Regions from separate parts of the Homo sapiens genome. Here region 2 is linked to region 1. Evidence: fine-mapped expression QTL. A gene starts in region 1. The other region holds a variant in brackets. All regions are shown on one strand. Distances are between the middles of the regions.

Region 1 (5,364 bases):
CCTCCCTCCCAGGCTGCTGCTCTGGGGAGATAGCAAAGGTTAGTGTGAGGCTCAGCCTGGTGGGGGGAAGAAGGCTCCTGCTACCTCCCTTCCCGGCACCCTCCAGAGGGACCCTCAGTCTGGCCTTGCAAGCATGGACTCTTCTGAGGAGCACGCTGGGTGCCCCGCCCGAGGGACATGTCCCGTGTTCCTGGCCATGAGTGCAGGGACTGTCCGCTACGCCCCATCAGGCCTGTGCCCTGTACTTGAGGGGAACTTGAGAGAAGAGCCCTGGGGCACAGACAGGTGAGCTCAGGACCTGGGGCATGGAGGGGAGGGGGAGTCTTGGCAAGCTTCAGGGCAGCCAGTGTGAGAAGCTGGGCTCAGAGAGTCCTAGGCAATGGCTCTGATTGTCTTGTCCAATTTGGTGGCTGTACAGAGGTGGAGACTGAAGCTCAGAGAGGGCAAGACACTCATCCTGGGTCACACAGTGAGCTGAGGACACACCTGTAAGTCCAGAATCAGGGCCTGGGTTGTCCAGGCTGACTGTCTCCTGCTCCTCAGCTGCCTTCAGCCAAGGGTCTGTGGTCAAGGCTGCCAGGCTTGGGATGGAGCAGGCAGAGGGAGATAGAGGGAGGGAGGCTGAGGAGGGCAGTGGCTTGTAGGCAGAGGACACAACTTTTATTTATCCCTTCCCTGCCACTGGCCAGACACCTAGCATGTGCTCAGGAACCTCTTGCTGCCTGGCTGCACACAGCTGCAGCTGCCAGTGAGCCTCTAGTTTCTGGGTGGTCTTTTTGGAAAACGGGTGTAAGAGGACTCAGCCCCACTGCCCCTGGCTGGTGTGATATCAGGCAGGTTCCTTAACTTCTCCGAGCCCATCCTTTTCAACTGAGGAGCAAGTTCAGCTGAGCAGGAGGGTCCTCCCTACTGGGGGAGGCAGTGAGCCCTAGGAGTCCATGGTAGCAGGAAGCATGGATGACAGGCTATTTTTGGTTAGAAATTGAGTGTGGATGCTTCCAGAGTGGTGACCACAGACTTGTCCTTCAAGACCTCGCTCAAGGGCCTCCCCGGTCCACCAGACCTCCCAGGCTGAGGACTCTTCCTCCAGGGACATAGCCCTGAGCTGACGCCTCCTCCACCCTTTATCTCCCACTGGTCTGGGTTGCCATGACTTATCTCCTGCCGGGGCTTGTGAAGACTTGGAGGGCAAGGGCCCTGTGCTGGGTTCCTTTTGTGTCATTTTCTCCTCCTTCTCTAAATAGTGAACAAAATAAGGGCCAGGAAGACAACAGTTGCTCAAGACCAACTGATGAGGGATTCAAGCCAGCAAACACATGTGGACATCTGCTTTGGGTGGGCCAGACCCTGAGCTGGGCTGGGGGTGGGGTAGGGGAACATAGCTCCAAGAAAGAGAGAATCCCTGCCCTCTGGAAGCCGTGGCCATGGAAACAACTGCCCTGCTGAGTGATGGCTATGGGACGCCTGGGCTGAATGATTCTAGAAAGTTGGAAGGGATGCTATGGAGAACTGCCTAGGTTGTTCACTGCACAAAGTGCTGGCCAAGGGAGCAAGCAAGGCATAGAATCCAGCCTCGCCTCCACTCTCCAGATTCCATACCTTGCTGTGCGCTGTGCCCAGCGGGGAAAGAGCATTGTCTATTTGTGCCCTGGACGTGGAGGTCTTAGAGAATACGTCCCCCATCCTCCATCCTCCACCAACGTGGAGCCCCAGGAGGGCAGAACCTATGTCTGTACAGTTTCCTGCTGGGTCCCCAGCCCCTTGCATGCCCCATAGTCTATGCTCAGATGGAGTGGCTGAATGTATGAATGAGTAGAATGAATGAATAAAATGTATCCTCAAACGAAGATCTGACTAACTTGAGCCTGCGGCCTGAGTCAGTGGGCCTGGAGGGGTAGCACTGGGACCTCTGGTAGCACCTAGAAGGGGAAGTACCTCCCACCACGCTCCCAGTCCTCCCCTAGACAGGGAAGGTGGGAGCCATGGTACCTGGCGGGAGAGAAGACGGGTTCTGCTCTTACTGGTCCAGTCCCAGGCTGAAGTTGAGACGAATGATCAGGACTCAGAATGGGTGGGACAGAGGAACTGAGGGACAGGTAGACCAGTCGTCTGGGATTCAGGGAAGGTTTCACGGAGGATGTGGGACCAGACAGGTGTGTGTATGTGTGTGTGTCGGTGGGGGTGGGGTGGGGAATACTATCCAGAGGGCAGATGGTGAGTAAAGGCAGGGATGGGCAGAGCGTGTTAAGTGGCAGGAGGCTGAGTGAGGAGAGTTGGACCAGAAGTGGAAACTCCTTCGGGATAAAACTCAGAGAGTAGGACTCAGAAAACTTGTTTCGGGTTTGTCCCCTCCCCTTCCCAGCAGGCAGGATGTTGCACAGGGACAGGCACTAAGCAGACAGCCTAGGGAAGGAGGGCCGGGTGAGGAGGGGGGAGGGTGTCTGCTGGCCTTAAGTGACAATCTGTGTGAGAATCGAAGAGCTGAGAGCTCGGGAGCCATTGTAGGTTCTTGAGCAGGGGTGGCCCAAAGTGGGTGGTGCGGAGGGCGACTGGAGAGGAGGAGTCAGCTGGGGAGTCTGAGCGCGGCGCGGCCCGCGGGATGTTGGGGGCCGGGTTCCCTCCGAGCGCCGTGGTCTCCCTGTCCCGGCGCGGCGGGCCGGGTGGGGCCAGGCCTTGGGAGCGCGCGCCGGATCCCAGCGCCGGGCCGGCGGAGGGGCGGGGCCGGGCACGTGTCCTCGGGCCGCTCCCCCCTCCGCCACGTGACCCGCCCAGGGCAGGGTCGGGGCTGGGCTGGGGGCCGCGAGCCCAGGCGTCTGAGACCTACTGACCGGCCGCGGGCAGGGCTGACAGGCGGTGGGGCGGCTCGGCCCCTGGCGGAGTCGGCGGCGGGCGGGGACGCGGCGCTGGGAGGACGCGGCGGCGCTGGGAACGGACGCCTGGGCGCCCCGAGGCGCCGGGATGTGGAGCGGGTAGGTCCGCGCGCGCTCGCGGTCCCGCGCTGGGTCTGGGCCGCGGTCGCCTCCCGGGACGGGAGGATTTCGGGGGTCCCCGCCGGGTCTGCGCCGCCACCCGGAGGTGCTGTGCGCCCCCGCCCTGCCTGCAGGCGAGCCGACTTGCAGCCAGGAGACTCCGGGGGAGGGGTCGGGGGTGTCTCTCGGGGTGCAGGGTGCGAAGGGTGGGCAGCCGACCGTCCCGGGGTGACAGCGTCAACTCCTCTTAGCTCATCAGGAGCGCAAGTGAGAAGAGTTGGGGTGTGGGGAAGAGTGTGCACGACTCTGGGGCATGCACCTAGAGGAAGGACCCCCAGCCCACCCTCCCAACCTGTCCCTCAACCCCTTCGCTGGATGAACTCTTGGAAAGCAGTGTAGCTGGGAAAGAGGGGCTGGGTCTTTGCCAGGGTGGCTCCCAAGTTGAGGGCAGAACCTCCTTGTGGGGCTCTGGAAGTACGGAGGCTCTCAGAGGTGTGGAGTGGGAACCCCCCCCGCCCCGGCCCCGCAGCCTGGAGTGGGGTAGCAGAGACTCTGGGTCCTGGATTAGTGGCCCCAGTGGCTGTGTCTGTTCAGGCCACTGGTTCTCAGGGGCAGTTGCAGTTCCTGGCCCATCTGATGTGGGACCCCTGCCCTGTATGTGCAGAAAGGTTGTGGTGTTTTTGTGGAGTTGGGCAAACACTTCCTCTTCCCCGTGGCCGGGAAAGACCAGGTCGTGGAGGAAATGTGGCCAGAATGGGGGACAGGTTGTACTCCTGTGCCCCCTGGGCCAGATGAGTGGTCCCAGGAGAGGGCTACTGCCCAGCTACAGCTGGGGAGTGAGGGAAGCCCCCCGGAAAGGCAGGCAGGATCCACTTCACTCCATGGCACCTAGCAAAGGTTGAGCTGCGATGCTAGGGGAGGGATGGCCTTTCATCCCCAGCAGGGGGTGTGGAGAGAGTGGGCTCCTGTTAGGGGTGAGGTGTGGAGAGGCTTGGGACTTTTTTTTTTTTTGAGACGGAGTCTTGCTCTGTCACCCAGGCTGGAGTGCAGTGGCGAGATCTCAGCTCACTGCAACCTCCGCTGCCTGAGTACAAGCAATTCGCCTGACTCAGCCTCCTGAGTAGCTGCGACTACAGGCACACACCACCACACCCGGCTAATTTTTGTATTTTTAGTAGAGACGGGGTTTCACAATATTGATCAGGCTGGTCTCGAACTCCTGACCTCAGGTGATCCACCAGCCTCAGCCTCCCAAAGTGCTAGGATTACAGGCTTTTACCACCACGCCCTGCCCTAAGACTTGAGACTCTTTTTTTTTTTTTTTTGAGACAGAGTGTCACTCTGTCGCCCAGGCTGGAGTGCAGTGGCGCGGCTCAGTGCAAGCTCCACCTCCCAGGTTCACACCAGTCTCCTGCCTTAGCTTCCCGAGTAGCTGGGACTACAGGCGCCCGCCACCACGCCCAGCTAATTTTTTTGTGTTTTTAGTAGAGACAGGGTTTCACCATGTTAGCAAGGATGGTCTCGATCTCCTGACCTTGTGATCCGCCCGCCTCAGCCTCCCAAAGTGCTGGGATTACAGGTGTGAGCCACTGCACCCGGCCTGGGCTTGAGACTCTTAAAGGGAGAGAGTTGAAGGCCACTAGTGTATTTGTTGGCATTGTGCTTGGAGGAAGGAGGCTGGCTTAGGAGAAAGTGCTTGAGGTGGGTTTGTGGTACCTGGAGAGGTTAGGGCAGTCCTGCCCGGGGTGAATTGTGTTTGGGGAGCAGCCTCGTCTGCCGGAAGCCTGTGTCTTGTGCCGGCTGGGTGGACTCAGGCAACACAGCCCCTGAGTTAGTTGCTGTGTGACCTTGAGAGTGTGGACTTCCTTCTCTGGGCCTCTAGGTAAAATAAATGGTTTCTGGGGTGGGAGTGATCGCAGGTCAGAGAATGTCCTTCCCTGGAGGCACCCAGGCCAAGGCCAGACACAGCTGAGAGCCACCAGTAGATGGATGGTTGCTTCAAGGAGAGTCAGAGAGCCTTATATCCTGGGCAGGGACCCCTCCCCACCATCCAGCCCCCCTGCCATATTCCCAGCAACACTCTGGATGAGCCAGCTGCCAGGCTGACCCCCACAGAATCCTCAGTATGGCTCACTTCCTGCATGCACCCCTGCACCCCCAGGGGCCTAGCTGGGTGCTGAGCTCATATCATAATGGGTGCTTCATAAATGCAGATGGAAAGGATGAGGGGCAGTGAGAAGCTGGCGGAAGGGGTGAGGCAGAGCTTGGGGGTTACCTTGAGCTCTGTATTTTTATGGCCCCCCATTTGGGTGAGGAAACAGGGATTTAGAGTCAGGGGCCAAGCTGCTAGCCCCCACTGGGTGCCTGGTGTCCTAGGAGCTCACCCAGACCCCAG
Region 2 (5,364 bases), 61 kb after region 1:
TAGGTTGTGGGAGAAGAGGAGAGGACTTACATTGAATATGTTGGATTTGCAATGGCTGGGACACCTCCAAATGGAGTTAGATTGGATATATGGGTCCAAGACTTGGAGATAAAATTTGACTTGGCTGCTCTTAAATTCACAGTCAGGGTGAAAAGGACAACTTCAGTTAGCAAGCGATAAAACAGTAATCAACAGGCCGGGCGCGGTGGCTCACGCCTGTAATCCCAGCACTTTGGGAGGCTGAGGTGGGCAGATCACCTCAGGTTGGGAGTTTGAGACCAGCCTGACCAACATGGTGAAACCCTGTCTCTGCTAAAAATACAAAATTAGCTGGGCATGGTGGCGCATGCCTGTAATCCCAGCTACTTCGGAGGCTGAGGCAGGAGAATTACTCGAACCCAGGAGGCAGAGGTTTCGGTGAGCCGAGATCACGCCATTGTACTCCAGCCTGGGCAACAAGAGCGAAACTCCACCTCAAAAACAAACAAACAAACAAAAAACAGTAATCAATAAACAAGTCCACATTTGGTTAAGAGAGGAAAAACTTCCCCATGGCTATTGGTTGGAGCATGAGGGACAAATAGACTGCTGAGAAAGACTGGATTTTAAGCAAGCATTTCAGAAAGTGACAATTTAGTCTTTGATAATTTTCAGATAAACAATTTATCTGCCGGGTGCAGTGGCTCACGCCTGTAATCCCAGCACTTTGGGAGGCCAAGGCGGGTGGATCACGAGTCAAGAGTTCGAGACCAGCCTGGCCAACATGGTGAAACCCCATCACTACTAAAAATACAAAAATTAGCCAGGCATGGTGGCCGGCGCCTGTACTCCCAGCTACTCAGGAGGTTGAGGCAGGAGAATCGCTTGAACCCAGGAGGCGGAGGTTGCAGTGAGCCGAGATCGCACCACTGCACTCCAGCCTGGGCGACAGAGCGAAACACCATCTCAAAAAAAAAAGATGACGTAATTACAATGGGCCCTAATGCAATATGACCAATGTCCCTATTTTAAAAAAAAGGAAAAATTTTCAAGAATCCACTTTTGGTGAAGAAAAAAAGAAAATTAAAAAATAGGCCAGGCGTGGTGGCTCATGCCTGTAATCTCAGCACTTTGTGAGGCTGAGGCGGGCAGATCACTTGAGGCCAGGAGTTCGAGACCAGCCTCGCCAACATGGAAAAACCCCATCTCTACTAAAAATACAAAAATTAGCTGGGCATGGTGGCCGGTGCCTGTAATCCCAGGTACTTGGGAGGCTGAGTCACAAGAATTGCTTGCACCCAGGAGGTAGAGGTTGCAGTTGAGTCGAGATCACACCACTGCACTCCAGCCTATGTGACTCTGTCTCAATAAATAAACAAATAAACAAAATAATTTTTTTAAAGAGGGATATTTGGACACAGATACAGATACAAATATGCAGAGAGATGATGTACCGAGAGGGAGGACGAAAGCCATCAACCAGCCGATGAGAGGCCCAGAACAGAGCCTTCCAGAGCCCTAAGGAATCCACCCTGCTAACACCTCAGTTTTGGACTTCCGGTCTCCAGAACCGGGAGAAAACACATCGCTGCTGCTTATGCCACTCAGTTCGTGGTGCTTTGTCATACGGTCTTCGCAAACGACCACACCTGTCATCTCAGCCAACGCCCAGCTGCTCCAACTTCAAACCAGGGTGTGGGGCAACCCAGTTCATGGGACTCAGGGCCCACAGGGAGCGGGGAAGGGAGATGGCCACACTTGCCTCTCATCCTGCTGCCTTTGAGAACTTTCTCGGGGGCTCTGCAAAAGCAGGGGCTGCCCCAGTGGACTCCCTATGTCTGAGGGAGAGTAGAGATCTTTAGGACTAGGTCCTGGTGGCCCCAGAGGGAGTCCTTTCCTGAGAGGCAGCTACCCCAGGGAGGAGATGCCTGGGGCCCCACAGGCTCCACTGGGGCACACGAGGAGGCAGCGTAGGACCCCCGGGTCCCCCTGTCCCAGTCACCCTCCTCCCCATGCCAAGCCAGCTGTGTCCCCAACTCACCACCCAGTTCTTATGGACGATCATGGTCATGATGATCTGGTACTGGAAATACATGGGGATGAGCAGCGGCGGCCCAACTGCAGGAGAGAGACAGGCGCTTAGAGGCATCCATTCCACCCTGCCTGTGCCGGAAGGTCAGGGGAACCCAGGCCCAGCACTGAGTGCAGGGGCCAGCCCTGCAGACGTGGGCAGAAGCAGCCAGGGACCCCGGGGCCTGCAGAGAAGGCTGGGAGCCCTTGAGGACGTGTGTCACCCCTGGGACTCTCTGAGCCTCTGTGTCCCCATCAGGCCTGTAACACAGGCTGAGGGGTCTGCACAGCAAGGCTGCTGTGGCCCCCGCTTCTAACAAGTTTAGTGTCACTTTCTGGATCTGAAAAAGATGTCAGGTAGGAGGGAGAGACACGCCACTCTGGGGGGAGGGGAGGGTCCCAGAGTGATTTCGGGGCGCCGAGCACTCACTCAGGAAGAAGTATTCGTGCTGGTGATTGTAGGGCAGGTATTTCAGCTTCTTCTTGCCGTACTGAGGAGAGAGGAGAGATCATGAGCACCCAGTAGCCTCAGCTCCCAGCCTCCCATGTTCCCCAACCCATCCTGCAGCCACCATCCCTTCTATCTGCTCAGGGCACACCACTGTCCCTTTCCTGTCAATCTGCACCCTGGGCCCACCAAGCCTGGGGCCCCTCCAGCCCTCTGGGCTCCCCATGCTACAGCCAGCAGCGGCCAACGCTTCCTCAGCCCTAGCCGAGCACTGGCCCGATGGCATCGATCCTCTACAAGGCCGGCACTTCTGAGGCTGAGGCTCAGCGTTAAGCCATGGCCCAAGGCCACAGGAAGTGGCCCTGACTGGGATCAGAACCCAAAAAGCTGACTCTGAGCCCATGTGACAGGCACTAAACAAATGTTTGTTGAATGAATGTGCAACAGAGCAACTCTCGGCGGAGCATAAGCACCCAGGGGAGTTCCTAGGTCACCATGGAGAGCTCCCGGAGCCCGCAGTGGCAGGGAGAACCTAGGTAAGGGCCCCAGAATTGCTGCCAGTCATCAGGCTGGGAGCATCTGCCTCCCTGGAGCCTCCCTGTAATTTACAAGAGTGAATCACTCCTCCCCAGCTGGAGCCTAACCTTGAGGACAGAGGAGGCCACAGCACAGACTCCTCAGGCCACATCTGGCTACCTGAGGTCCCCATGACGGCACCGGTTTCTTCCCCAT[C/T]AGAGCCTGCACCTTGGGCAGCCTGATGCCCAGAGGCTCTAATGGAGGAGGGCTGGGCTGGGTCCTGGGCATCGTCATTGTCCAATGCCAGGCATAGGAACCACGGCCCCAGGGGATCCCTGGAGCCCTTAATTCCATGGTCCAGCCCCTAGGGACCAGCCCACCCTGCACTTCCAGGACTGAGACCAAAAGATGCCGCTCACTGAGTGACACCTGCTCCTCTCCCTTGCAGTGTGGGGAGGCTGGGCTTGCAGCCAGCAGATGCGCTTGAGCCGACTCTGCCTCTCACCAGTGCTGAGACTATGTGAGTCGCTTAGCCTTGCTGAGCCTTGTCTGGCATTTGAATCAGTGGTTGGTAAGAGGAGCCAATGAGAACATGGGCATAATGCCAAGTGCTGACCCCAGGACACTGCCCGTCACCCTCCCTATACCCCTGGATCCGAAGGCCAGAGATGCCTCCTCCTATAGTGTCCAGTCATACTTATTGCAGTCAGGAGGTCAAAGTGAGTTACAGAGGGAAGGGACCTTGGATGATGCCTAGGCCAGTGCCCCTCTCATCCAGGTGAGTAAAATGATTGTCCAAATCACAGGGAGAGCATGGATTCCTGAGGGAAGAGGCTGTGGGTGGGAACCAGGTCCACCCTGTCCCCAAGGCTTGCATCTTGGCGCCAATGGCCATGGTCACGGCACAACCAGCTGAAGAACCCCCAGAAACAGTCCCTTTGTTCTGTGTGGCCTCCTGAGCCTTGGCAAGGATCTCACTCATTCCCAGAAAGGACGGCCACTTGCAGGAAGACTATTATTAAGGCCAGGGCTGAGGCCGGCCATGGAGAGGTCCGAGCCAGGGAGGCCTCACAGGAGCCTTTCATGAGTCTCCAGTGGACGGAGTTGCTGGAGGAGCCAGCACTGCAGACGTTGCTCTCGAGGTGGCCAGTCTCGGGGCCTGCAGTGGCCCACAGAACAGGCCCCTGAGTCCTGCTCTAAGCTTCTCCCAGAGGCCAGGGAGCAGGCTCATAGCCCCAGCCTTGGCATGCAGTGTCTCCAGCTCTGCTCAAGAGCTCCTCCCCACCGCATCTCTGTCCCACAGAGCATCCCATCCCTCTCGGGCTGGGCCGGCTGTACTCGGAAGTGAGCACAGAGGGCAACCCAGGCAGGTCAGCAGGGGCCAGGGCATCCTATGGAGGGACTGAGGGCTGGCCACGCTGTTGTGGGGGCCTGGGAGGCACCTGGGGAGTCTGTTTGGAGCTGCATGTGCACAGTAGGCACCCTGTTCTCATGGGTGATGGTGGCCTGTGGGTGGACAACACAGGTTACAGGGGCTGCCTCTGCTGGTAAGCACTGCTGGCTTTAGTGTGCGTCCCTTCAATGCCCCAGAATGACCCTCGGGAGCCAGGGGGTCCTGCTTGCCAGGCAGCAGCAGGCCTCAGAGTGGGCCTCTGTGGGACGGTGAGCAAAATGCTCATCACAGTCACGCACGTGTATGTACATGCGTATGGTGACATACCACTACACATCTGTGCCCATCTCGATGGCCTCAGCTGCAGCGGCTCTGCTGGGGGATGGCCAATACTCCCCTCCCAAACCAGAAAGTACAACTGTGGGTTTGGGATACGAAGCCCTGCCCTGTGGCTAACTCTCTGCTCTCATCTTTCCCACGCTCAGTTCTTTGCCAGAGCTTTGCCGTTTAAGTCATGGGACCAGGGAAGGGAGGGAGAGGTATTTTAGAATGTAGCAAGCTAGGGGGGTGAGTGCCTGGCTGTTTAATTGATCAGAAAGCTGGGGCTACCCAACAAACATATTTCACAAGGGCCCCCAGGACTCCGAAGCTGTGGTTTGCAGCCAGATGGTTTGGGTTCGGACAGTGGTGTTGCCTTTTCCTTGCTGTTACCTTGAACAAGTCACTTCATGTCTCTTGGCCTTAGCTGTTCCATCCATGAAATGGGTCGATGACAGCTCCCGCCTCACGGGTTAAGCAAGGATTAAGTGACGTTGTGCACGCACACTGCCCATCACAGTGCCCGGTCCACAGACTCACTCAACAAGAGTCAGGCTTCTTCCCAACTGGGGGCTCAGAGCCCCAAGTGTGGGGAGTGGAGGACCCCACACATCTCCTCCTCCAGAGGAGTCCCCGTCAC

The links. PIP is the estimated chance that this variant, and not a neighbour inherited with it, causes the effect.
Region 2: its variant is the best candidate, but not a certain one, in a credible set for the expression of RAB3IL1 in whole blood (INTERVAL, PIP 0.68).

Annotation. Positions count from the first base shown.
Region 1 is chr11:61,914,962-61,920,325 of GRCh38, reverse strand. RAB3IL1 (RAB3A interacting protein like 1) reads left to right here and starts at 2,760. Exons shown (of 10, transcript NM_013401.4): 1 at 2,760-2,969. The coding sequence starts at 2,959.
Region 2 is chr11:61,854,187-61,859,550 of GRCh38, reverse strand. It overlaps FADS2 (fatty acid desaturase 2), which reads right to left. Exons shown (of 12, transcript NM_004265.4): 6 at 2,480-2,540; 7 at 2,021-2,097. Among named protein-coding and RNA genes, the nearest start is that of MIR6746, 21 kb to the left of the region's middle. RefSeq lists an enhancer at 2,057-2,558. The variant C/T (reference allele first, on the strand shown) is at 3,230.